Regions from separate parts of the Homo sapiens genome. Here region 2 is linked to region 1. Evidence: fine-mapped QTL for protein levels in blood plasma. A gene starts in region 1. The other region holds a variant in brackets. All regions are shown on one strand. Distances are from middle to middle.

Region 1 (12,784 bases):
TGGTGTGAGAAAACTCAGGGAAGGTTAATCTCAGTTAATGAACACATATTTACCGAGCATGCCCTCTGTCCTACAATCTGGGTGCAGGCTATATAGAAATAGATGACCCATCCCTGGCCTCTAGCTGGGGATTTGGAAAAGTAAACATTCCTTGTGACACTGCGTGACTAGTACTTTAACAAAGGTAGGCACTATGATGAGCAGTGGGGATCCTAAGGAGGGGTTCATCTGTGCCTAGACACCTGGCGTTGCTGCTGGAAGACTATAAACATGCTTTCGGTGGCAGTGAGAACAAATGGGACCGTGCATTGCCAGCTGGCTTATGCCTGTTAGCTTAGGGAATGAGAATGAGTGGAAACCCAGGTGTCTGTAGGAGCTTCCTCTTTCTCTCCATGTCCTCTTCGGGTCCATCTGCCACCTGAATCCCATCTTTGTATCTGGGCAGCTGATTCCCCTCCAGGACCTGTTAACTATCATTTACTCATTGGCAGGCCCTGAGCTGAAAGCTGGTGATCCAAAGAGGAAGGTCTCAACCTCAGATCAACCTCAACCTTAGTCACCAACCCAGCCCAGAATTAACTGGAGTTTGCTTCCCCTTGGTGTTTTAGACAGGCTTGCCTGGGTAAGCATTTTCTCTGGAAATTTCTTACTACGTTGGCCCTGGCAGAGTGCTAAATACCTCTCTACTTTCTGGCAGGAATTCCCCATGTTCTGTGAGTCAAAAACCACTGGCAATTAGAAAACTTGCCTTGAATCCTCCTCCCATTTCTCAGTATTAACCTTTCATTTGTTCTTCAGAGCTTTCTTCCAGCTATTGCCCCCTAAGAAACCTCAGCAGCCTAGCCCCATAGGTCTAAGCCTCCAAGTTTCCCTTTGAAAACAAAGACAGTCTCCACTGCAGATGAACAGATAATGGAGGAAAGTCACAGATGCTCCAGCACAAGCAGAAAAAGAGACATCCTCAACCTGATTTCTGCTTTCCATCCCACTCCCCCCACCCCTAGAAAGCCTCCTCCATGCCTCCAGGGTCATGTCAGCTCCCCAAACCCTTGATCCGGAAACCCAGATTTATTCACCAGAAATGACTTACTGGTGTTTCTGCAGAGCAGGGACTCAGTGACAAGGACGCTGGCCCTCTAGCCTGGGGCTCTGGCAGATGCCTCAGAGTGAGGGAGGAGGCTGGGCTCAGCAATGTAGGGCCCAATCAACCTTGTGAACAAGGATATCCTGGGCCTGGCCTTCAACTCCAGATTAATAAACAGCTCTTCTCAGAACTATGAGAAATTTAGGAGCCTCCAATACAGTGCTCGGCAGCTGTCTGCTTTAATACAGCACAATTCCTCTTTCAATTGCCATCCATTTTGGCAAATCTCATTGCTGAACTACCACAGCTAGGTTCACCTAGTTAGTCCTGTTGACATCCTTGTTTCCAACAGAAAAACAAAGATACTCACAAATGCATACACATGCTCATGCACACCAACTATACACACAGACACGTGCATGCACGCACACACCCATCCATGAAACCACATAGACCTCTTGCTGCCATTAATGCATTAAGGCCATTCCTGCCTCAGACTCTTCATTTGATGTCTCCATGCCTGGACCCCTTACGGGCATCGCCAGCTAGCTCTTTCTCTTCTATTCAAATATTCCAATTTCAGAGAAATCAGTACCTTGATCACTTATTCTAAAATAGTCCTACCTAGCAGTCTCTATCCTCTTAGCCTGAATTATTTTCTCTCATGTTACTTACACTTTATGATATTATAGTCATTGACTTTACTTTTCCAGTTTTTCATTGTGGTAAAATAGACATAAAATTTACCATTTTGACCATTATTATTAAGCACACAACTCAGTAGCATTAAGTACATTCACACGGTTGTGCTATCATCACCACATCATGGGATGATTTTCATCATCCCAAACTGAAACTCTCAACTCATTAAACTAGAATTCTCCATTTACCCCTACCCACAGCCACTGGTAACTTCTGTTTTACTTTCTGTCTCTCTGAATTCATCTATCCTAGGTACCTCATATATGTGAAATCATACAATAGCCCCCTTGTATCTGGCTTATTTCACTTAGCACAATGTCTTCAAATTTCATCCTCATAACAAGAATTGTAAACTGTGTTAAAGACTTTGGGTTTCCTTCCAGGGGGCACTAGAGGGACTGCAGTAGTGGAGAGGTGATCACATTTGAATTTTGCAAGGCTTGTTCTGGCTATGATGTTGAGGGGAACAGGACTGGAGAAAAGCAGATCTAAAAGGAAGTGCTTGCCATGATCTAAGCAGCAGAAGACAGTGGCCTGGGTCAGGGTAATGGCAGCTAGATTAAGAAGGTAGGCACACTTGAGAAACAGGAGGTATTGATTGCACTTGAGAATTAGCTAGAATAGTGAGTGATAATAAGAAGTTTTCATGGGCACACACATTTATGACTTGACTATCTAGGAGCCACTCAACTGAGATAAGAAGCAAAAGAACAGCACTTGGCACTATAAGATCATGGGTATCGTGTGTGTTAATGGCTTGAACCATCTTGCTGTGGTTAATGGGGACAATCTAGAAGGGATGGAAGAATACTTTTACGAACATAGTTCATTTGATTCTCAACTACATTACTGATATGGCTTTCAGAAAAATGCCATGTAGCTTGGGGTGTTGGGGAGCCCATCCTGAGAAGTTCAGAGGCTGCGGGGCCATGTGGTGGGGGTACTATGGAGGCCTCCAAACACCAAAAGAAATGTGAGTAAGATGCATTTCCAGGTCCCTTCCAATTGAAGTCTTCTTGGCTTGTGGAGGGACTGGCTTCCTTACTTCCTGCTGACCTGTCTGCTGTGCCTGGAAAAATGTCCAGGATGGTACAGAGCCACATGCCTAAAGCCATCAGTGGATATCAGGAGATCCAGGGCCTAAAGAAGACAGGGCCTGAGAAGACTTGTTTCCCTTCTTATTCTTTAGCAGCCAGAGCTTCCCCCTGCTCCTGCTCCAGTGGCAGAAGGTGAGGTGAGGTAGTTGACTCCAGGTCACTGGCGGTGCTGGCTTTAATCACAGTGCTTGCTTTCATTGTTTACCTAGTCCAGAGGTCAGGAAACTGCTCTCCAGACCCTGAAATTTCCTAGAACTGGGTTCAGAGGGTGTGGGTATCTGGGGGAAAGTCAATCTAGCAATTGATCCGGAGATTGGAGTGTCACCCAGTTACATCCTGCTCTCCAGAAGGCCTTTCCCAAAAGGAGAGGCCACTCTCCACATGCCGCAGCCTGAATGTCTCTCTCCACACGAATGCCCACTCTGCACTCCACCCCATAGATAAGGCCACTGTGTGCATTTGTTCTGGACTTTAAAACCCTTCCCAGCCAGGCGTGGTGGCTCACTCCTGTAATCCCAGCACCTTGGGAGGCCGAGGCGGGCGGATCATGAGGTCAGGAGATTGAGACCATCCTGGCTAACACAGTGAAACCCCATCTCTACTAAAAAATACAAAAAAAAAAAAAACAACAAACTAGCCGGGCGTGGTGGCGGGTGCCTGTAATCCCAGCTACCCAGGAGGCTGAGGCAGGAGAATGGAGTGAGCCCGGGAGGCGGAGCTTGCAGTGAGCTGAGATTGCACCACTGCGCTCCAGCCTGGGCGACAGAGCCTCTCCGTCTAAAAAAAAAAAAAACTTTCCACTTTCCTAACACTGCTTCCATTCTGGCAGCGCCACAACAAATCCACCTCACCCCAAGAGGCTGCAGAGAAAACTGCCTCTCTGACCTGCAGGAGGACTGCCTGGTGCCCTACATCCCCTTTTTTGTAGACTAGGGTGAAATCCCAGCTCTCCCACTTCCCAACAGTGTGACCTTATTCAAGTTCCACTGCCTTCATGTCCTCAGTTTCCTCGTCTGGGAAAGAGGGCACCGCTGCCTTGGCTGTGGAGTGGTGTGTCCTTAACTGGTCCACATTCAGAGTGCATGGCACGTGGCTCACCATGACAGCCTGCTTAAGAAAGGCCTTCATTCCCTCCAGGGTGACTGTTCAAGAGTCTTCTCAGCTTGGGAAGCAGTGTTCTTGGGTGGCTCCATGTGAGAGGCATGGTTTGAGATTGGAAACCAGAAGGCTTGGTTTTGTCTCATGAATATGAGCTTAGATAGACCCCATATTCTGGCCGAACCTCAGTTTTACATCTTTCAAATCAGATTTTGAACCTCATTCCCTTTTCCACAGAGCTGCTGTGAGTAGGACAATAGCAATGAGAATGTTATTGCTCTCCAAGTGAGGACCATCAGGAATATGCTTATAGTCAGATAAAATGGATTTATTATTTTTAGTTTCTTTTAACTGTTTGTTCCAACAGGGATATTGAGCACAATGGTGTACCCTAGGATTTCTCAGTAACAGGGTGTCGGGAGGGGATTTCTATAAGACTTGTTTTGTTTTAGTTGGTTTTGGGGGAAGGGGTTTAAGAAGCAGGAGTCTGTTCTGGATAGGGTGCTGTCCGTAAGCTGGGCAATTCTGTGATTGTGCATCTTAACTTTTATTTAGGAGATAAGTAGAACAGAGCAAGGCGAAGCTGTATTTTGTAAAAGAGTGGCAGATGTTTATATTAAGCAGGAGAGGGGCATGTTTTTCGTTTTTGTGGTTCACAGAGCAACCTTTTCTGTCTATATGAAGACATGATTTTGGAATGATTTGGGATCTCACAACAGAGTAATATTGTTGTACACCGGTATTCTGTGGAAGTGTTTAGGGTCAGCAGGGAATACCATGGTCTGGCCATGAGAGACAGGCTGTGAGAGACAGCTGACAGCGGTAGGCTGCTTTCTTGTTGTCAGCAGTGTCCTTTGTAACCCTAAGGCCTGACCTTCCCATACTTTTCATCCTGTACTGTCCTGTGTTCCAGTCCTGCTATTTTTTCTTTGCTTGTTTTTGCTCATGAACTCTCTGAGAATGTGTAAATGTCACAGGCCTTCTTTTTAACCAACACAAATACACAGGCGCACTGCATCTGGCAAGGACTACCTTAGGCCCCTATAGCCATGGGGTGGGTGGTCAGAGGGTGTCATATCTGCCCATGTGATAGAGACATGCTTATCTGTGACATGGCCTTGAACACAGGGTGGCTGCAGTGAAAGGCAGCTCAGTAGTTAGGATAGCAAAGACCTGCTCTTTTGCCACAGAAATCAGAACACATGTGGCTTTCAGACTCTCCTCAGACATTCCTTACTGCCATTCTTCCTTCTGCCCCTTCACTCCCAGGCCTGGTATATTCCTTCCACCAGCGTCCTCCCTCTGGGGCAGCTTCCCTCTCTAAAAAAAAAAAACAAGAATTTCCTAGTGGGTGACCATCATTGATAGGTTTCTGGGGCCAGGGACACTTCTTGTCCAGGCCCATTCTCTGCCTCTGCTTTGGCTCACCTGGTGACCTAGAGCAGCATGTGTCAGAGGTGACCAGACAGGCTACACCCCCAAAAGGAGGTTGCTCACTGCTAAGATAAAGAGCAGGCTGAGAGGGGCACGATCAGCACAATGGAAAGATAAGGACCAGAAGCACACACTACTGGCTGCAAAATTATTGGAAAGGAATACCAGTAATTTAAAATAAGTATAATCAATATCCATAGAAAAATCAGTGAAGATACTGCCCACATGACACAAGCAAGAGGCAGTAGAAAAGCAATGAAGTAGAAATATTAACATGGACATTAGCCATTAGAATAATAAACACGATAGAAAGTGCAAACCATCAGGGTGCATATTGCTGAAGAACACACGGAGAAACTGCAAGAGCAGAGCAAAGGACTCTTGCAGGACTGGGAAACTGGAGAGATGGAAGTCAGGGGGTTAGAAACAGGAGATTTGGCGTATTAAAGACAAACAAGCAAAGCTTTCTGACACACAAAACGGAGTTGGAGAGATGGTACTCCTGCATCTAAACCAACCAGTCCCACAGATACCAGCAAGGAGGAGTGGAAGAGACAGAGATGGCAGCTCCCCAGGCCTGAAACTGGGAACATAGGGAGGATACCGCAGAGAGGTGCTCACCTTTCGAGGCTTACCAAAAGCCATGGCACAGTGAGTGCTTGGGCTCTAACCAATTAGATCACCAAACCGCCTTCCCTGTGATGGTTAAAAATCTAGATATTTAGGGTAGGATCAGAAATGTAGGGAGTTGGGCAGAAACACTCTTCTTCCCAACACCATCTCACTTGATTCTTGTGATTAGCTGCATGTAAGAGCCAAGCCTGGGTACAACAGGGAAAAAATCATAAGTGACCCCAAAGAGCTTCCAATATCATGAGGCAGCTTTCCTGGTACCCTTCCTGCTCTTTTCTACCTTCCTGGGACCAGAGACACAGAAAGCTCAGATGTAGATTAATGATAGATTAATTGCATTATTAACGGATTAATTGCATCATTAATTTACCTAAGATCCCACACTGTACGCTTCGACAAAAATTCACCCTGTATGTATCCATGTGTGTGCGTGTGCATGCACTTGTGTACATATACTTGTGTATGTGCTTGGGAGAGGGGGAGTATCTGAATGGGAGTCTGTGCCATTTCTTAAAGTCTGTCTCCCCACCTGTGATTAAATGAGCTCACCTGTAGCTTTGCGAGGATGAAAAGGTTTAGCACTCTGGAGCCAATCAGGAAACAGACATCACACAGTGATCTAAACAGGGGTAGTTTAATATAAAGAATTATTAAACCCTGATTAAAAAGTATAGAATGTAAGACATTCTGTATGGTTCAGACCTCACTGGAGAAAGGGTAGTTGAACCCACTGGGTGGCTGTGCTAATTTTTTGGGCCAGAGCTTCTCTGCAGTTCTGGGACAAGCAGGCATCAGCCCCCCTCCGGAGCACAGGTGGGCCAGGCAAGCCGCAGGTCCTGGCCGCAGTGGTCGCGCCGCGGGAGTGGGTCGTAGGTGCAACAGGCGGCCCGGAGCGCGGTGTCCCTGTTGGGAGGGGCACCGCTTCCCTAAGATTGCGGGAGACACACCTGGGGGAAGAGGGAGGGACGAGCAGAGGCAGCACAACAGAGGTGCAGGCAGGAGGCTTCGTGCCTCGGTGTCCCTGTCGCGAGGGCTGCAGGGGGTTGGTGGCGAGGCCAGGGCGCAACTGCAAGCCCCCGGATTCGCGGCCAGACTGCGCATTCCAACCGCGGTGCCCCCAGATGTTCCCACCCGCCAGGCCGACTCCCGAGGGGGCCTCCCGAAACTGCAGGAGCCCCCTTCTTCTTGCCATGTCTCTCTAGCGCCCTCTACTGAGAAGCTTTGCATCGTGCTCACTCGAAAAACGCTGAAAGGAATTCTGTGGTTTAATCACAGAGCATGTTTTGAAGGGTAAATTGGGAGCTGAGAGTCCTTTGATGCCTGGCACAGTAGGTGTGTCCGCATCGTCGTGCACACGGTAAGTCCACAGGCCCTGTGTGCTCCCTTTGTCTGCAGCTGTGACATCAAGGGTCCCTCCAGCCCGGCCTCGCGGCAAAGCTGAGCAGCAAAGGAAGGCAGAGGGGTGGGCCTTGCCGGCTTTGGGCCCAGAGGCTGGAGGCTGGGCTCCCTCTTTCTTCCCTTCCTCCTTTCCTCTTTCCCTCCTTCCTTTCTTCCTTGCTTCTCCCTCCTCCCCTCCCTGCCTCCCTCCTCCCATCTCTGTCTCCCTCTTCCCCTCCCTGCTTCCCTCCTCCCCACCTTCCCTCCCTCTTCCCCTCCTTCCCTCCCTCTTCCCCTCCTTCCCTCCCTCTTCCCCTCCTTCCCTCCCTCTTCCCCTCCTTCCCTCCCTCCTCAAGCACAACACATCCACATCGGCCCCCAGCCCAGCGCAGCTTTAAGAGACCCACTTACCTCAGAGGAACCCAATCAATCCCCACAAACACCTCTCTAGAATAGGAAGATGGAGATACAGGTGAGTCTGTCCTGGACAGAAAAGTAGAGACCCTGGAGGAGAGTGCGTTGAATTGATTGAGAGTGAACTGCCTATTGAATTGGAGGTGGGGGACGGTCGGGGAGGGTTAAGGGAGACCTTCTCTTCCAGAAGGGCCAAGGAAAGGCTGGTTCCACAGGGCTGGCTGGGCTACAGACCAGCTGCCTCTCCCCTCTGCATACAGTTGGGTACCCAGTCACCAGACCCCCCAAGTGAGGGGGTCAGGAAGGTGTCACGGACAGATGTACACATATCTCATTTTCATTCCACTCCATCCTGACCTGAGGGTTGTGACTTAGACAAGCGCCCTCATCTTGTTGAGCCTCAGTTATTCAGCTGTAAATGGGCGGAAGGAGAGCATTTAGTAATGGTAAATATGTAAGAGTGCTAATCGGGAAGCTCTACCCACTGAGAAAACAAGAAAAAAAATTCTTGGCGCTGAAAGAGGACCAAGAAGGATTGCTTTCTGAGATAGGTGCGGACAGACACACGCAGACCTAGAATAACGAGGTCAGACTCACCCAGGAATACTTGGCCCCAAGTTGACTCCCCTGTTTAAAGAGCGATAGAATGGTGGAGAGGGAGGATTGTCTTCTCAGGCGGCTCTGTATGGCCTCCAGGGGCCATGGTGAGGGATGGGGGTATCCTGGCCCTGAAGGCCCAGGGCACTTGAGGGAAGAACAAACTTTGCTGTGTCCCACAGGGAAAGTATGGGTCAGCCCTGCCATCTTGTGGCCATGCTTAGGACTGCAGGGGGCCAAGGGATACCCTGAGAGATCAGAGTACATTTCAAGGAGAAAGAAAAGCATTGCAAATGTTAGGTGTAGTAAAGATCTTGGCATTTGAAAGACTAAATCCAGACTCGGGTCTCTGGAACTTCCCAGGGTGCCAGGCATCTCGCAAATAGTAGTGCTGTCTCTCCTCTCCTCCCTTTCCAAGATGTGAGCTCTGGGCTGCAGATTCTGGGCCTGGATTCTGGTCTCCTCGTTCTGGGAGCTGCTCTCTGGGCTGACCCCAGGGCCTTGATCTAATTTTTTTCTTTGAAACTTGAGTTCTAAATTTGGGGTCTGGTCCCTGTCCTGACTGTCTAGCCTCAGTCCATCTATCTCTGGGCTTGGTTGTTTGAGATCATGGCTGAAGGTTAGGAGATCAGAGCTCCTGGTCTCTGCTCTGGTCTCTGAACTTAGACCTCGGGAATCAGGACACCAAGCCCTTGGTCATGGCTCATGCTACGTGGATGAACTCTGGGCTCCATTTGACTTTGTGGTCTCTACCCTCTGGATAGGCAGGAGTCTATGTTGTAAGCCCTGAACAACCAGTCACTGGATCTGCTCCAGGTCAGGTGGCTCTGGGGTCTGCTGGCTGGTGCTTCATTTGAGGCTACTCCTCCTCGAGGTTGTTGCTCTGGGCTGTGGGGTTAGGATTTTAGCCAGATTCTTCATGCCAGGCTGGAAACACAGGTAGCAGGTCTTGCATCTTGTAAAGGATAAAAGAGGCTCTTGCAGATACACAGGGAGCTGGGCCTGCCTGGACACTTCCTCCTCAGGAACTGCCCTAGGAAACATGGACCTGGCCAAAGATTTGTCCTGGGAGGATTGAGGGCCCACAGGCACATCCTGAAGAGATGCAGAAACTTGCCCATCCCTGATGTCTCAAGCCAGCCCAGATATAAACACAGAAATGGAGACAGACAACTTCAGACATTGGACTGTGAGATGAGGAGAGAGGGTCGGGCTCACTGTGGTCATCCTATCCTGTATCTTTCACACTGCCTGAAACATGGGACCACAGCAAACATTTGTTAATCAATAAAAGCAATGAGCTATGAGAGAAAAATTAGAAAGATGTAGAAGGACAAAGGGAGGGAGAAGGAACAGGCATTTGTTGACTAACTGATATGTGCTTCTGTGTGCTAGTTGCTTTATAGGTAATACCTCACTTAATTCACACAACGCCTTGAGTTGGTATACAGTATGTCATCTGTGTTGAGGTGACAAGGCCCTTCCCAGGTTCCACGATTCACTAGGAGGACTCCTGGGACTCAGCCTATAGTCATACCCATGGCTATAATTTATTTACTTATTTATTTATATGAGACGGAGTCTTACTCTATTGCCCAGGCTGGAGTGCAGTGGCACAATCATGGCTCACTGCAACCTCTGCCTCCCGGGTTCAAGCAGTTCTCATGCCTCAGCCTCGCAAATAGCTGGGATTACAGACATGTGCCACCACACCTGGCTATTTTTTGTATTTTTAGTAGAGACAGGGTTTCACCATGTAGGTCAAGCTGGTCTCAGACTCCTGACCTCAGTGATCCACCCGCTTTGGCCTTCCAAAGTGCTGGGATTACAGGCATGAGTCACTGCACCCAGCTATGGCTATAATTTATTATAGTGAAAAGATGCAAAGCAAAATCAGCAAAGGGAAAAAGGTGCAGGAGGTGAAGTCTGGAGGAAACCAATTGCAAGCTTCCAAGAGTCCTCTTTCAGTGGAACCACAGAGGGTATGCTTAATTCCTCCAGCAACAGACTCTGACAACATATGTGTAATATTATGTACGAGTGAAGCTCATTAGAGACTGAGTGTCCAAAGTTTTTATTGGATGTTGGTCACTTTCTGCCTAGCATGCACCAAAATTCCGGACTCCTAGAAGGAAAAGAGGTGTTTAGCATAAATCATATTGTTTGTATAACAGTTTAGGTACAGTGAGCCACTCTTGTAAGTTCTGGGAATGGTGGGAACTCTTGAGAAATACAAGCTCCCAGACTTCAGCCAAAGGCCAACCTTGCAAGTAGGCCTCTAAAAATAATAGTCTCGGGCCTACTGTGTGCAATTTTTCTTCACCTTGAGTATGACTGGTACTCTGCCTTTGGACTGTGAACCCAGTGTCTCCTCACCAGAGGGTGTCCTCTCATCAACAGCCTCCAGGGTGTCAGTTTGAAGAAATCACAGAAGGAGGGCTGGACCCTGTGGGGGCCTGGAAGGAAGATAAATTTGGGGAAGATTAATATTTAAAGGTTTGAAAAAACCCACCAAGGCTAACCAAAAGTGCTTAAGACCTGCAGAATCTGTATGAATCTTAGCACTGGATATCCCCCTGTGATGTGGGGTGCAGGGTCAGACCCAAGCACTTTACAGACTGTATGGCATTTAATCTCTCCAGGCATCCTGTGGGTGTCAGAGTAAATGTCCCCATTTCTCAGATGAGGGAAGAACTGCAAATACAACCCAAAGTCTGCTAGCCTTTAAAGCCATTATTTGCTCCTCAGTCCAATCAATATTCTGTGTGACCATGGCTCCAACTGACAACATCTGCCTTTTTATGTCATCACTAGAGTGTGACTGGTCCACTGTGAGTTCCTAAACTCCCCTCACATCCTTTTCTTGCAGAAAACCTCCGCTTCCGCCTTCCCAGGCCTACTGCTCTGCCTTTGTTCTTTCACTTCTTCAACATGGCAAACTCTGTTCCTGCTTCTGCCTCAGTGCAGTCTGGCCCACTGCCTGGGATGCTATACCTTCTTCTTTCTCATGGTTTCTTTCCCCTACTACAGGACACACATATCTCAGAATGGTGGATGATTTGTGAGTATTTCGTGTTCCTCCACCAGAGGTAAACTCTTGAGGACTGGCAACCACTCTGTAACACATGAAATGTCAACCTATGATCAGAGAATATGAAAATCCAGAAGTGCTTGGTATTCTGGGCAAATTGAGCTCTGTGAATAATATAGAATTGCATTCGCATCCTAGTCAACCATGGGATAAGAGAAGCCTCAATGTTCAGACCAAGGACAATCAGTGTCTGATCCTAAAAGAAAGATACAGGCTCTAGAAAAAGAAATCTAATTCATCACAACACAAGTGGAAGATGCCAAGACACACATGCTTGAACCTATCACAGAAAACTGAAAAAATTCTCATCATTTCCATACAGAGATCCAGCACTTGTGTGAAGAGTAAGTTCAAGTTTCTGCAGGATTGTTAGCGCAAAACCGAAGAACTGGCAGCCTCCCTGGGAGAGGAGAACATTGGTGATAATGTCCAATCAGAGAATGGAGATCATGTTGAAACTAGGCAAAAGGATCCTAGAGGAAACTGAAGGGTTTTGTAGGGAAGTTGGACGTTTAAACATTGAAAATAGAGGAAAATTCAATCTATGCCAACGTTGCTGAAGAAGAGTACAGAAAAGCTGAACGGACAAGTCCTCTGAAAGGGGCTCAAACTGAAGAAGCTGAATGAAAAGGTCAGATCCGCATCTTAGAGGAGAGAGGAAATGAAATGAGTGAACTCTATCAGCAGAAAGAAATGGAGTCTGTGTCTCAGTTATTACCTGTCAGGGTAGATTATGACTAACAGAAAGAGGTGGGAAGTTTTGAAGCCAAAGACCTGGTGAGTCGTAAAAATGAACTAGAGATCTACAGAATAGATTGTAAGATATCAAAGAAAAGCTGGAAATACCATTTCTTCTTCTCAGGGACAGATTCTGTCCTTAGAACTAAAAGTTAATGGTAATTGGTTGAGAGCTTGGGAGGCTGAACAAAATCTCATCCTCACCAGACAGGAGGTTGCAGATCTGAGGTAAAGAATAAGGGAAAGATAAATTCAACTCCAGCTTCTGGCAGTGGATCCTCTTGTATTTGTTGATTGTGATGGAACATTTGGCTGGGAGCATTTGCTTCTCAGCCCATAGGCATGGGATGCCGCTTCGTCTGGGATGGAACGGCTCCATGCCCCTCTGCTCAGCTTCCAGGATGTCCTGTACCTTCACTTTACCTTTCAGAAAGAAGAAAGGTGTTTGTCTCAATACATTTTAGTTGATTTAGAGAATGGCTGTCCTAGTCAGTCTGGGCTGCTATAACAGAAAAACAC
Region 2 (12,784 bases), 22 kb after region 1:
TAAAATGTGAATTTAATGAGAATCTGAATCTTTCTTTCTGTGGTTATAGAACTTCCTTAGAGGCATTATTTCATTTGAAGGCTTATCCCTTAAAAAGAAATGCATGATGACAGTGAAGGATACTTAGAATGTATTTATTTATTCAACAAATTCTTATCACAAGGCTGTGTTATGATATGTAGTAGGGAGCCAACAGTGAACAGAATAGACAAGGATCCTTTCTAATAGAACAAATATTCTAGTGAAAAATTCAACTTCTAAAACTTTTCAAATATCTACAGTGGAAAATAAACCATGATTCTCACTGAAAGTCTTTTTCAACAAGGCAGTAATCTCAAAATCTATCTTAAAAGGCATTACAGAATCTCTCTTGGTGCTTTAAATTGTTTCACCAAGCAGGTTATTCTATTGTTTAAAGTGTTAGCAAGGAAAGAAGAAATGTAATCAAAATGGATTACGTCTTACTGAGCCTGAATCTATGTGGATTTTTGTATTATTAATAAGTAAAACCCTAGTCTCAGACAAAAGATGAACTGGAAGATGGTTGTGTAATGGGGTGGATGTTCATAGGGACATGCATACCTAGTTTTAGTACTGAGCTTGTTACGAGCAACAGCCACAGTGTTTTACAGAAGAATGGCAAGTACTTATTAAGAAGCTAGTCAGTCAAGTAACAGTCATTTTAAAAATTTTCTACTGTACATTTGAATTTCATTTCATTCTTTGAGCCATGATTGATATATATGGCCCTTGATATGGCACTGTGCTTATGTCACACAATCTGAGTAAGAAACAGAAAAGACCTGTGGAAACTTGCGATCTTGCTGCTTATCATTTTCCTTAATGTTTCAAAATAATACAATAATCACAGTTTGCCAATTCCTTTTACATATATTGTCTTCTGCAAATTCTTTCCTGCCTTCTAGCAGGGAGTATAACATAATTATAAACCACATGGCAAATCCATGGTAGTTTCCAGTCTTTAGCTCCTTCTATTGTACTACCTCGACCAATTTTTTTTTCTGTTCCTCCTTATCAAAATGACTATAGTAAATATATCTTCTGCATATTATTTGTGAGTTTCAAATGAAATGACTTTTGTAATATTTAAGTGCTTGACACATATAAGCTCTTATTATTAACTTTCAGAAAAGCAAATTAAGCAAAAAAAAAAGTGTAGGGTGAAATTATCTTAAAAATTATAATCACAAACTAAATGCCACTTACAATATGTAGGTAGTTTCCAGAAAACAAGTATAAATTAACGATATTAGATTCTGAGAAATACATGTAGACGCTGTGTTTAAAAAGCTTCTAAATTTATATTTCTCATCTAGGAACTAATTCCAACTTTTTAGCTTATTGGCCCATCAAATATCACTTGATAAATATATACTAGATATAATATATCTAGTATATATTAGAACACTTTTCCGTGTCTTTAGATTTGCAGGTAGTATTTTACCCAGTTAAGTAACTTTGCTGAAGCAATATGTATTTCAATTTGCAGCAAATAGATCTTACATGGCTTATCACTTTCTATTGCAAATGAATTATGCAAATACTTTTTTTGTTTTTTAAAAAAATTTTAATAGGTTTTTGGGGAAGAGTGGTGTTTGCTTACATGAGTAAGTTCTTTAGCGGTGATTCCTGAGATTTTGGTGCACCCATCCTCTAAGCAGTGTACACTGTACCCAGTGTGTAGTATTTTATCCCTCACCCCCCTCCCACCATTTTCCCCAAGTCCCCAAAGCCCATTGTATCCTTCTTATGCCTTTGTATCCTCATATCTTAGCTCTCGTTTATAAGTGACAACACACAATGTTTGGTTTTCCATTCCTGAGTTACTTCACTTAGAATAATGATCTCCAGTTCCATCCTGGCTGTTGCAAATGCCATTATTTCATTCCTATTTATGGCTGAGTAGTATTCCATGGTATGTATATATACATATGCCACAGTTTCTTTATCCAGTTGTTCATTACTGGGCACTTGGGCTGGTTCCATATTTTTGCAATTATGAATTGTGTTGCCATAAACATGAGTGTGCAAGGATCTTATTCATATAATGACTTCTTTTCCTTTGGGTAGACACCCAGTTGTGGGGACTGCTGGATCAAATGGTAGTTCTACTTTTAGTTCTTTATGGAATCTCTATAGTTTTGCATTGTGGTTGTACTAGTTTACATTCCTATCAGCAATGTAAAAGTGTTCCCTTTTCACTGCATCCTCACCAACGTCTATTATTTTTTGATATTTTGATTATGGCCATTCTTGCAGGACTAAGATGGTATTGCGTTGTGGTTTTGATTTGCATTTCCCTGATCATTAGTGATGTTGAGCATTTTTTCATATGTTTGTTGATCATTTGTATATCTTCTTTGGAGAATTGCCTATTTATATCCTTAGCCCACTTTTTGATAGGATTGTTTGTATTTTTCTTGCTGATTTGTTTGAGTTTCTTGTAGATTCTGCATAGCAGTCCTTTGTCAGGTGTATAGATTGCAAAGATTTCCTCCCATTCTGTGCATTGTTTGTTTACTCTGCTGAATGTTTCTTTTTCTGTGCAGAGGCTTTTTAGTTTAATTAAATCCCATCTATTTATCTTTGTTTTTGTTGCATTGCTTTTGGGTTCTCAGTCATGAAGTCTTTGCCTAAGCCAATGTTTAGAAGGGTTTTTCCGATGTTATCGTCTAGAATTTTTATGGTTTCACGTCTTAGATTTAAGTCCTTGATCCATCCTGAGTTGATTTTTGTATAAGGTGAGAGATGAGGATCCAGTTTCATTCCCCTACATGTGGCTTGCCAATCATCCCAGTACCATATGTTCAATAGGGTGTCCTTTCCCCGCTTTATGTTTTTGTTTGCTTTGTCAAAGATCAGTTGGCTGTATGAATTTGGCTTTATTTCTGGGTTCTCTATTATTTTCCATTTGTCTCTGTGCCTATTTTTATACTAGTACCATGCTGTTTTGGTGACCATGGCCTTATAGGATAGTTTGAATATACTATACTGTATTATATTATAGTATAGGTAATGTGATGGCTCCAGATTTGTTCTTTTTGCTTAGTCTTGCTTTGGCTATGTGGGCTCTTTTTTTTGGTTCCATATGAATGTTTAGGATTGTTTTTTCTAGTTCTGTGAAGAATGATGATGGTATTTTGATGGGAATTGCATTGGTTTTGTAGATTGCTTTTGGCAGTATGGTCATTTTCACCATATTGATTCTACTCATCCATGAGATGAAATTCTGAAATTCATGATTCTGCACATCCATGTGTGTTTCCATTTGTTTGTGTCATCTATGATTTCTTTCAGCAGTGTTTTGTACTTTTCCTTGTAGAGGCCTTTCACTTCCTTAGTTAGGTATATTCCTAATATTTTATTTAAATTTTTTTGCAGCTAGTGTAAAAAGGGTTGAGTTCTTGATTTGATTCTCAGCTTGTTATATGGTTAGGCTTTGTGTCCCCACTCAAATCTCATCTTGATTTGTAATCCCCATAATCCCCATGTGCTAAGGGAAGTAATTGAATCATGAGGGTAGTTTCCCCAATGCTGTTCTCATGATAGTGAGTGAGTTCTCATGAGATCTGATCATTTTATAAGGGGTATTTTCCCCCTTCGCTGGGCACTTCTTCTTGCCACCTTGTGAAAAAGGTGCCTTGCTTCCACTTTGCCTTCTGCCATGATAGTAAGTTTCCTAAGGCATTCCCAACCATGCTGAACTGTGAGTCAATTAAACCTCTTTCATTTATAAATTGCCCAGTCTCAGGCAGTTTGTTATAGCAGTATGTAAACAGACTAATACACTTTGGTCACTGTTGGTATATAGCAGAGCTACTGATTTGTGTACATTAATATTGTATCCTGAAACTTTGTTGAATGCATTTATGAGTTCTAGGAGCTTTTTGGATGAGTCTTTAGGGTTTTCTAGGTATACGATCATATAATCAGAAAACAGTGAAAGTTTGACCTTCTCTTTGCTGATTTGGATGCCCTTTATTTCTTTCTTTTGTCTGCTTGCTCTGGCTAGGACTTCCAGTACTATGTCAAATAGAAGTGGTGAGAGTGGCCATCCTTGCCTTGTCTCAGTTCTCAGGGGGAATGCTTTCAGCTTTTCCCCATTCCGTATTATGTTTACTGTGTGTTTGTCATAGATTATCACATTATGGTATGTTCCTTCTATGCTGATTTTGCTGAGGGTTTTAGTCATAAAGGGATGCTGGATTTGGTCAAATGTTTTTCTGCATCTATCGAGATGATCATGTGATTTTTGTTTTTAATCCTGTTTATGCGATATATCACATTTATTGACTTGTGAACATTAAACCATCCCTGCGTCCCTGATATGAGGCCCACTTGATCATGGTGGATTATCTTTTAAATATGCTGTTGGATTCGGTTAGCTAGTATTTTGTTAAGGATTTTTGCATCTATATTCATCAGGGATATTGGTTTGTGTTTTATTTTTTGATTATGTCCTTTCCTGGTTTGGTATTAAGGTGATACTGGCTTCATAGAATGGTTTAGGGAGGGTTCCCTGTCTCTATCTTGTTGAATAATGTCAACAGGATTGGTGCCAATTCTTTGAATGTCTGATAGAATTCAGCTGTGAATTTGTCTGGTCCTAGAGGATTTTTGGTTAGCAATTTTTTTTTAATTTCAATCTTGTTCCTTGTTATTGGTCAGTTCAGAGTCTCTATTTCTTCCTGGTTTAATCTAGGAGGGTCGTATATTTCCAGGAATTTATCTATCTCCTCTAGGTTTTCTAGTTTATGTGCATAAAGGTGTTCGTAGCAGCCTTGAAGCATCCTTTGTATTTCTGTGGTATCAGTTGTAATATTTCCTGTTTCATTTCTAGTTGAGCTTATTTCAGTCCTTTTTCTTCTTTTCTTGGTTAATCTCACTAAAGGTCTATCAATTTTGTTTATCTTTTCAAAGAACCAGCTTTTTGTTTCATTTATCTTTTATATTTTTTTGTTTGTTTCAATTTTATTTAGTTCCGCTCTGATCCTTGTTATTTCTTTCCTTCTGCTGGATTTGGGTTTGGTTTATTCTTGTTTCTCTAGTTCCTTGAGGTGTGATTGTCTATTTGTGTTATTTGTGCTCTTTCAGATTTTTGGATGTAGGCATTTAAGGCTGTGAACTTTCTTCTTAACACCACCTTTGCTGTATCCCAGAGGTTTTGATAGGTTGTATCAATATGATAATTCAGTTCAAATAATTTTTACATTTTCATCTTGATTTCATTGTTGACCCAGTGGTTATTCAGGAGCAGGTTATTTAATTTCCATGTATTTGCATAGTTTTCAGGGTTCCTTTTGGAGTTGATTTCCAATTTTATTGCATTATGGTCTGAAAGAGTACTTGATATAACTTCAATTTTCTTAAATTTGTTGAGATTGTTCTGTGGCTTATCATATGGTCTATCTTAGAGAATGCTCCATGTGCTGATGAATAGAATGTATATTCTGTCATTGTTGGGTTTAATGTTCTGTAAATATCTGTTAAGTCTATTTGTTCTAGGGTATAGTTTAAATCCATTGTTTCTTTGTTGACTTTCTGTCTTGATAACCTGTCTAGTGCTGTCAGTATTGTATTGAAATGTCCCCCACTATTATTGTATTGCTGTGTATCTCATTTCTTAGGTCTAATCATAATTGTTTTATAAATTTGGGAGCTCCAGCATTAGGTGCATATATATTTAGGATTGTGATATTTTCCTGTTGAACAAGTTCTTTATCATTATATAATGTCCTTCTTTGTCTTTTTAAACTGCTGCTGCTTTAAAGTTTGTTTGTTCTGATATAAGAATAGCTACTCCTGCTTGCTTTTGGTGTCCATTTGCATGGAATATCTTTTTTCACCCCTTCACCTTCAGTTTATGTGAGTCCTTATGTGTGAAATAAGTCTCTTGAAGACAGCAGATACGTGATTGGTGAATTCTTATCCATTCTGCCATTCTGTATCTTTTAAGTGGAGCATTTACATTCAATGTTGGTATTGAGATGTGAGGTACTATTCTATTCATCATGCTATTTGTTTTTCTGAACACCTTGTTTATTTATTTATTT[G/A]TTTGTTTGTTTTGTTGTTTTATAGGTCCTGTGAGATTTATGCTTTAAGGGGATTCTATTTTGGTGTATTTTGAAGATTTGTTTCAGGATTTACAGCTGCTTTTAGCAGTTCTTGTAGTGCTGGCTTGGTAGTGGTGAATTCTCTCAGCATTTGTTTGTCTATAAAAGACTATCTTTCTTTCATTTATGAAGTTTAGTTTTACTGGATACAAAATTCTTGGCTGATAATTGTTTTGTTTAAGGAGGCTGAAGATAGGGCCCTCATCCCATCTAGCTTGTAGGGTTTCTGCTGAGAAATCTACTGTTAATCTAATAGGTTTTCCTTTACAAGTTACCTGGTGCTTTTCCCTCACAGCTCTTAAGATTCTTTCCTTTGTTTTGACTTTAGATAACCTGATGACTGCCTAGGCAATGATGTTTTTGTGATAAATTTCCCAGGTGTTCTTTGAGCTTCTTGTATTTAGATGTCTAGGTCTGTAGCAATGCTGGGGAAGTTTTCCTTGCTTATTCCCTCAAATATGTTTTCCAAACTTGTAGATTTCTCTTCTTCCTCAGGGATACCCATTATTCTTAGGCTTGGTCATTTAATATAATCCCAAACTTCTTGGAGGGTTTGTTCATTATTTTATTCTTTTTTCTTTGTCTTTGTTGGAATGGGTTAATTCAAAAACCTTGTCTTTGAGCCATGAAGTTCTTCCTTCTACTTGTTTGATTCTATTGCTGAGACTTTCTAGTGCAGTTTGTATTTCTCTAAGTGTCGCCTTCATTTCCAGAAGTTGTGGTTTTGTTTTAACTTATGCTATCTATTTCACTAAAGATTTTCCCCTTCATATCTTGTACCATTTTTTTGATTTCATTAAGTTGGACTTCACATTTCTCCAGTGCCTCCTTGATTAGCTTAATAATTGACCTTCTGAATTCTTTTTCTGTCAATTCAGAGATTTCCTCTTGGTTTGGATCCATTGCTGGTGAGCTTGTGTGATCTTTTCTGGGTGTTAAACAACCTTGTTTTGTCATATTACCAGAATTGTTTTTCTGGTTCTTTCTCATTTGGGTAGATTATGTCAGAGAGAGGATCTGGGGCTCAAGGGCTACTGTTCAGATTCTTTTGTCCCATGGGGTGCTTCCTTGATGTGTTGCTCTCCCCCTTCTCCTAGGGATGTGGGTTCCTGAAAGCCAAATTGTAGTGTTTGTTATGTCTCTTCTGGATCCAGCCACCCAGCTGAGCTACCAGCCTCTGGACTGGTACCGTTGGGTGTCTTCACAGAGTTCTGTGATTTGAACCATCTTCAGGTCTCTCAGTCATGGATAGCAGCACCTGCTCTAGTGGAGGTGGCAAGGAAGTAAAATGGACTCTGTGAGAGTCCTTAGTTGTAGTTTTGTTTCTTGCACTAGTTTTGTGTTGGTTGGCCTCCTGCCAGGAGGTGGTGCTTTCAAGACAGCATCAACTGCAGTAGCATAGGGAGGATCAGGTGGTGGATGGGGCCCTAGAACTCCAAAGAGATTACATCCTTTGCTTTCTGAGTTTTTCCGGCTGTCTCCAGTGGCCTGCAAGAGCAATCCACTTCCTTCAAAGGGTCTTTAGATTCTCTTAGCTTTCCCGGTATGTTTGTGCAGTAGTTACTGGAGTGAAAGTTCACGATGTGAGTCTCCACATGCTGCTCTGTCCATCTGATTGGGAGCTGCAATTTAGTCCTGCCTCCTACCCATTATATTCCTGCTTCAATCCCCCAACCAACACTCTGAGTTCCTCAAATACATCCTGAATGCTTCTGAGCTTTCAACTTTCTAACTGTAATTGCTTTTATTTCAGAGATTGACTTGGGAAATTATAGATAATGAAATCTGATGAAACTCTCTCTGACTAATAATCCATAATAAACAGTGGCCTGGGGGTGAGGTGGGGAAAGAATGTATAACACCTGAATACTAGTGAAGTCCTATGTTCTTGGAATTATAAAACTCGAGAAGTTAAAAAAAAAAAAAAAAGTCTTGACAGCTGACAACATGTTATACTGCTTCTTACAGACCAGAAATACTCCTCAGAATATTATCAATAATCAGAGGCCACAAGTGACTGTGGCCAAACAAGATATAAACAACACCACTCTGCAATCATGTCTAAATATCGGGAAAAGGACACTATGCAACCACAAAAATTACCAAGCATCCTTAGTTTCTGGCTAATTGAGTGGCTACAGTTTCTTTACTAATGATAACCCTAGCTTCTATCTCAGTTGTTTGGACTTATATTTTTTCTCTCTTTTAAGAATAATCTGAGTTTTGTTGACAAGCACAATGTTTTAATTGGTGTCCCAATAGAAAAACGTATCCCATTGGTCAGAAAAACAGAAAACATGTGTATTCCTAAGAAATACTCATAAACCAAGTAACTTTCCCCACCAAGCAATGACTCAGAGATATTATTGTAAAACTACTCTCCTAAAGAATTCAGAGCAGATTAATCATAATCCAAAGATTTCCCTGTCAGAGTGAATGTTAACTAAAAAGGGGAAGATATGTGCAAAGTGTTTTTAGGCTTAAATGAATGAATACAATATCCTCTTGATATTAACACATACAATTCTCACTTAAAAATTAAAAAATAAGAAATCTACAGATTAATGTCAGCAACAAAATTTTCTTGGATCTTCTAAATGGACATAGTTAAACAAATAAACTGTCCAGCATTTATTGTGAAGTGACATAATTAACAAATATATCTCTCACATATAGACATGCACATATGTATATGTCTATATAAAGATGGAATATATGTTCATTAGTATTATAAAATACATTTAATTACATGACTCAGTTTAATAGAATACTGTAGCCTTACCACATTCACTTACTCCTGGATGTATATCTACCAATTTTGAAGAAAAAAAGTAAATATTAAAATCATTACTTTGGATGGTAAGCAAAGATGTCAAGTCAAGTACTTTTTTATTCTACTTAGATGTTAAGGCTTTAAGTATGTCACTTAAATATGTATACAACATACTTCTAATGTGAATTTAGTTCTGGAATGCAATGCACTATTTTATTTGCTTTCCATTTGCAAATGAACTCTTACTCTTTTTACAGTTGCACTGCTTGACAGTTCCTTTATTACAGTTGACATAATTAAAATAGAACTATTTTACTTATAGTTATGATATATTATAGTAATTTAAACCAATGCTTTCACTAGAGTTCTTATTACAGTTGTTCAAACGTATTATTTTAATATAAAAACATTAAAATTTCACAAAGTAAAATGTCTGCAATTATTATCCTTAGTAAGTTGGTAATAAGCAACAATACAGAGTTTTGAAATGTACAGTAAATTTTAAAATAATAAACATGGATGAGGAAAAGCTCCAATCTTCAACAACATTCATATATTGTGGAATGTGTCGTTAGTGATATGTACATTTCAAATAAATGAAAGTTAGTATAAAGATTATGATTTAGTAAAATGTGTACGGATCTGGATATATTGATATTTACTGCAAATTGATAAATATAACATCTGCAATGGTCTGAAAAATTTTAAAAGCTCCTCTGACTTTAACACAAACATCGGTATGTCCTAGTTACTATTGCTACATAATAAATCATCTTGAATTGGCTAAAACAACAGCCATTTTATTATGCTCAAAGATTCTACAGTTCAGGAATATAGAAAGGGCAGACAGTTGAGGCTTCTGTTTTTTGGGGCTTCAGGAAGATGTTTTCTGGCCTTTTGGGTCTACTGATGCTCCTGCAGGAAGGCTGCAGTTCTTAACAGCACATGGGGAGCCCTCATCTGGTGTTTGGCTTAATTCCTGGTGCCTGGATTTCTGGAGAGAGGTGTGATTAATGTGGCCAAGAACATCCTTTTCCACCCATGTTGGAGAGATCGCTGTGTGGATCTGGTCCCTACAATTTAGAAGCAGCTTTTCACCTTGATGCTCAAATGACCATGCTTAACCACTACTTGCCCTGCATCCTTTTCACCAGCTGAGATTCCCAGCAAGCAGTAGGCTCCCATCCTGGACTCCAAGGAGACAACTCTTCCCTGCACCTTCACCTGGAAAGCTGTTGCCCTTTCTTCCCAGATCACGATCACAAGACTCCAAATTACCGAGTGGGGTCCAACAAGGTGGGACTGTAAGGAACATGTCCTGTGGACATTACCTTCACTGTTCTCATGAGTGGGATGGGAAGAAAAGAGTCCTCCCCTTCCAATTGGTGGATTTTCTGGGCTTGGAAGGAGGAAAACAAAAACAAAAACAACCAAACAGAAAATAACTATTACCTGAATTATTATGAAACTTCAGAGAAAACTACTTATTTGAAGAAAATAAAATACGATTTATGTTGTTGAATTTGCATTGCCAGAAAGTTTCCAGTGTCCTTACTACAATTTTTTTTTCACCATCAAGTTTGGTCAGAATCTCACAGCTCAGAGAAAATTATGGAGGAATAATAAGATCTAGAGCAGTGCTTCTCGTATCTTATGTGTGAAGAATCTTTTATTAATTTGTTTAATTTCCAGACTGACAGTTTTGTAAAATGCCTTATTAGAAAAAATTTTAAAAATAAAGAAATAAAAAGTCAAGCCCCAAATATTGTATTTTAACACCCTAAAATTTCATTTCAATAAATATAATCAAAGTAACATAACAGGAATAAAAGAATTACACAAACTGAACACATTATTCATTGAAATAAGCATAGTTGCAATTAATATAGATAATTCTGTTAAACTTATGTCATTCTGCAATCATAATGTTATAAGTTATGAAAAATAGCAATCTCCTATATTAGAATACCTCTAAGAGCACTTTCAACAAATGCCGTATTTATCAATATTTAAATATTTTAGTGTGTCAAAAAAATTGCATCTTTCCTATGGACTTTTCTGATCTGGACTGAGTGGGGGTGACGAAATGGCTCACAGGGCATGTGTAATATGTCTATATGATTTATTTTAATAATACTCACAGCAGAGAAACCTCTCAGAGATTTTGAAAGCAATTTTATTAAGCTCTGGATATTTATTTCAACGTTCCATCAATGACAGTTCCAACAAGTTAGCTTCTTAAGTTATAGTTATATTGAAATCATCTTTCAAAGGAAATGCACTAAGGATTTTCTAGACTTTGAGGTTACAATTGCAGAACCAATCTTAAAATATGCCATACTGTAAGGTGGTCCTACTGTGCATGACTAATGCTGGGGTCAGACTCAGGAAACGCTGATCAATTGTTAGAGAGCAGGTCTCTACCCTGATCAACCACAGGGGTCCAGTGATCACACCTGGAGGTCCTGGCAATGTCAAATTGCTCTAGGAGTGTGCACCTGAGTCTCAACTTTGATATTATTCCCTTTATCAAATAATACTGGATTACAGAGCATTCAACGCAAAGAGAAATATCTTTCTGATTTTCTCTCTGGCTTGAGCATCTACCTTAATCATATTCACTAAATTAATGGAATTCTGCCCACATGTCTTTTACACAAAAGAACTGTGAATTTAAAATGCAGCCGTGGTGTTACTCACAAGTGCCCACATCCCAAGTCAGATCCACAAAGAAATGAAATACTCTCCATACTCAAACCCCCTTTGCCCTTTTTTTTTCAGTTGATTTTCATATTTATGTTATCTATCAGAAGCTTAATAATTCTCGCTCTGTGAAATTATGTTTATGACAGTGCTGTGAATTCTCGGGTGGTATTTACTGCAGAGTGGTAGACCCCTGTCAATGCAGCTCTGGCTCTGGCAGAAATGCCAGCATTACACTGTAGCCCATGGCAGACTCTACTATCCTCAGCACCACGCAAGAGTCAGCAGTCACCACCTCCCGAGAGAGTCAGTCACCCTCAGCCTTGGAGCAGCAACTCACCCTCTGCGTGCTACAAATCCCCCGGGCTGGAAGTCCTGGCGCCAAGCCTGCGAGCTTCCCGGGTGTTGACCTGCGCCTAAGTCCTTAAGTGACTCTGTCCTCGAAGGAACGCACTTTTAAACAGTCCCTTTGTCCAAAGAGGCAAGAGTTTTGCCCTTCGGTGGTGTGAACCTACAGTACTCCCCATGCCCTGTGTTTTCCGGGTGAACTCGGAGACCAGGGGCTGTGATGCGAGCTCCAGGCTCGCTGCAGGAGAGGGAGGCTCTTCCTAGAATGTGGTGGTAGTGCTGACAGGTGATTGTTTCTCACTGCTGGTGAAAGCGCCATCAAAGCCCCCACTTTCTGAAATGGTAGTTCTGGTTTCCTCACAGACTTACGTGTGCGCTTGCAACATTAAAGTTTTCTTCTCTCCTGGGAAAAAATACAGTATCTCATTGTGCCTCTCAGCAGTGCTTCTACCCGGTGACCTCTTTGCCAGGGCCGAAGCTGAGCCTGGATAGGATCACCTGGCGCACGGGGATGGGACAGGCAGGCACACAGGAAAGAACCACTGTCCTGTGCTCCCAGGTGACCTTTTGCCAGGAGAAAGAATCCTCCAAGGGAGCGGAAAAAGTCAAGACCTCCAGGAACGTGTGTGTCTCACACCAGAATCTTTAATGCCTTCAAATCACAGACCAAGTTTCTTTTTTCCAGGGACTTGGGTGATGGCCAGGGTTTATTGACACAGAAATGGAAACAGACCATTCTTTAAGTTCACTGAGGTCCTGAAACAATAATCTTCTCAGGATGCTCAATGTGAAGATTTTCTTTTTGGTGTGTTTCTTCTCTTAAGGC

Direction of the effects. Alleles are on the strand shown, and positions count from the first base shown. The strength of an association depends on the size of the effect and on how common the allele is.
As copies of A replace G in region 2, the plasma level of the protein whose gene starts at base 1,138 in region 1 goes down (weak association).

Evidence for each region. A credible set is the group of variants that fine-mapping cannot tell apart. PIP is the posterior inclusion probability: the model's chance that the variant is causal. Protein levels are from antibody-based Olink assays in UK Biobank. Linkage for the fine-mapping came from a reference panel and not from the study's own genotypes, which makes the PIPs less certain.
Region 2: its variant is the best candidate, but not a certain one, in a credible set for the plasma level of the MBL2 protein (UK Biobank, PIP 0.86).

The regions. Positions count from the first base shown.
Region 1 is chr10:52,771,647-52,784,430 of GRCh38, forward strand. MBL2 (mannose binding lectin 2) reads right to left here and starts at 1,138. Exons shown (of 5, transcript NM_001378373.1): 1 at 1,091-1,138. LOC105378306 (a long non-coding RNA gene) reads left to right here and starts at 7,512. Exons shown (of 4, transcript XR_945963.2): 1 at 7,512-7,897. LOC105378307 (a long non-coding RNA gene) reads right to left here. Exons shown (of 4, transcript XR_945965.3): 3 at 12,470-12,688; 4 at 10,495-10,892.
Region 2 is chr10:52,793,657-52,806,440 of GRCh38, forward strand. All of the region lies in intron 2 of LOC105378306 (a long non-coding RNA gene), which reads left to right. The region is part of intron 2 of LOC105378307 (a long non-coding RNA gene); the gene reads right to left. Among named protein-coding and RNA genes, the nearest start is that of MBL2, 27 kb to the left of the region's middle. The variant G/A (reference allele first, on the strand shown) is at 6,075.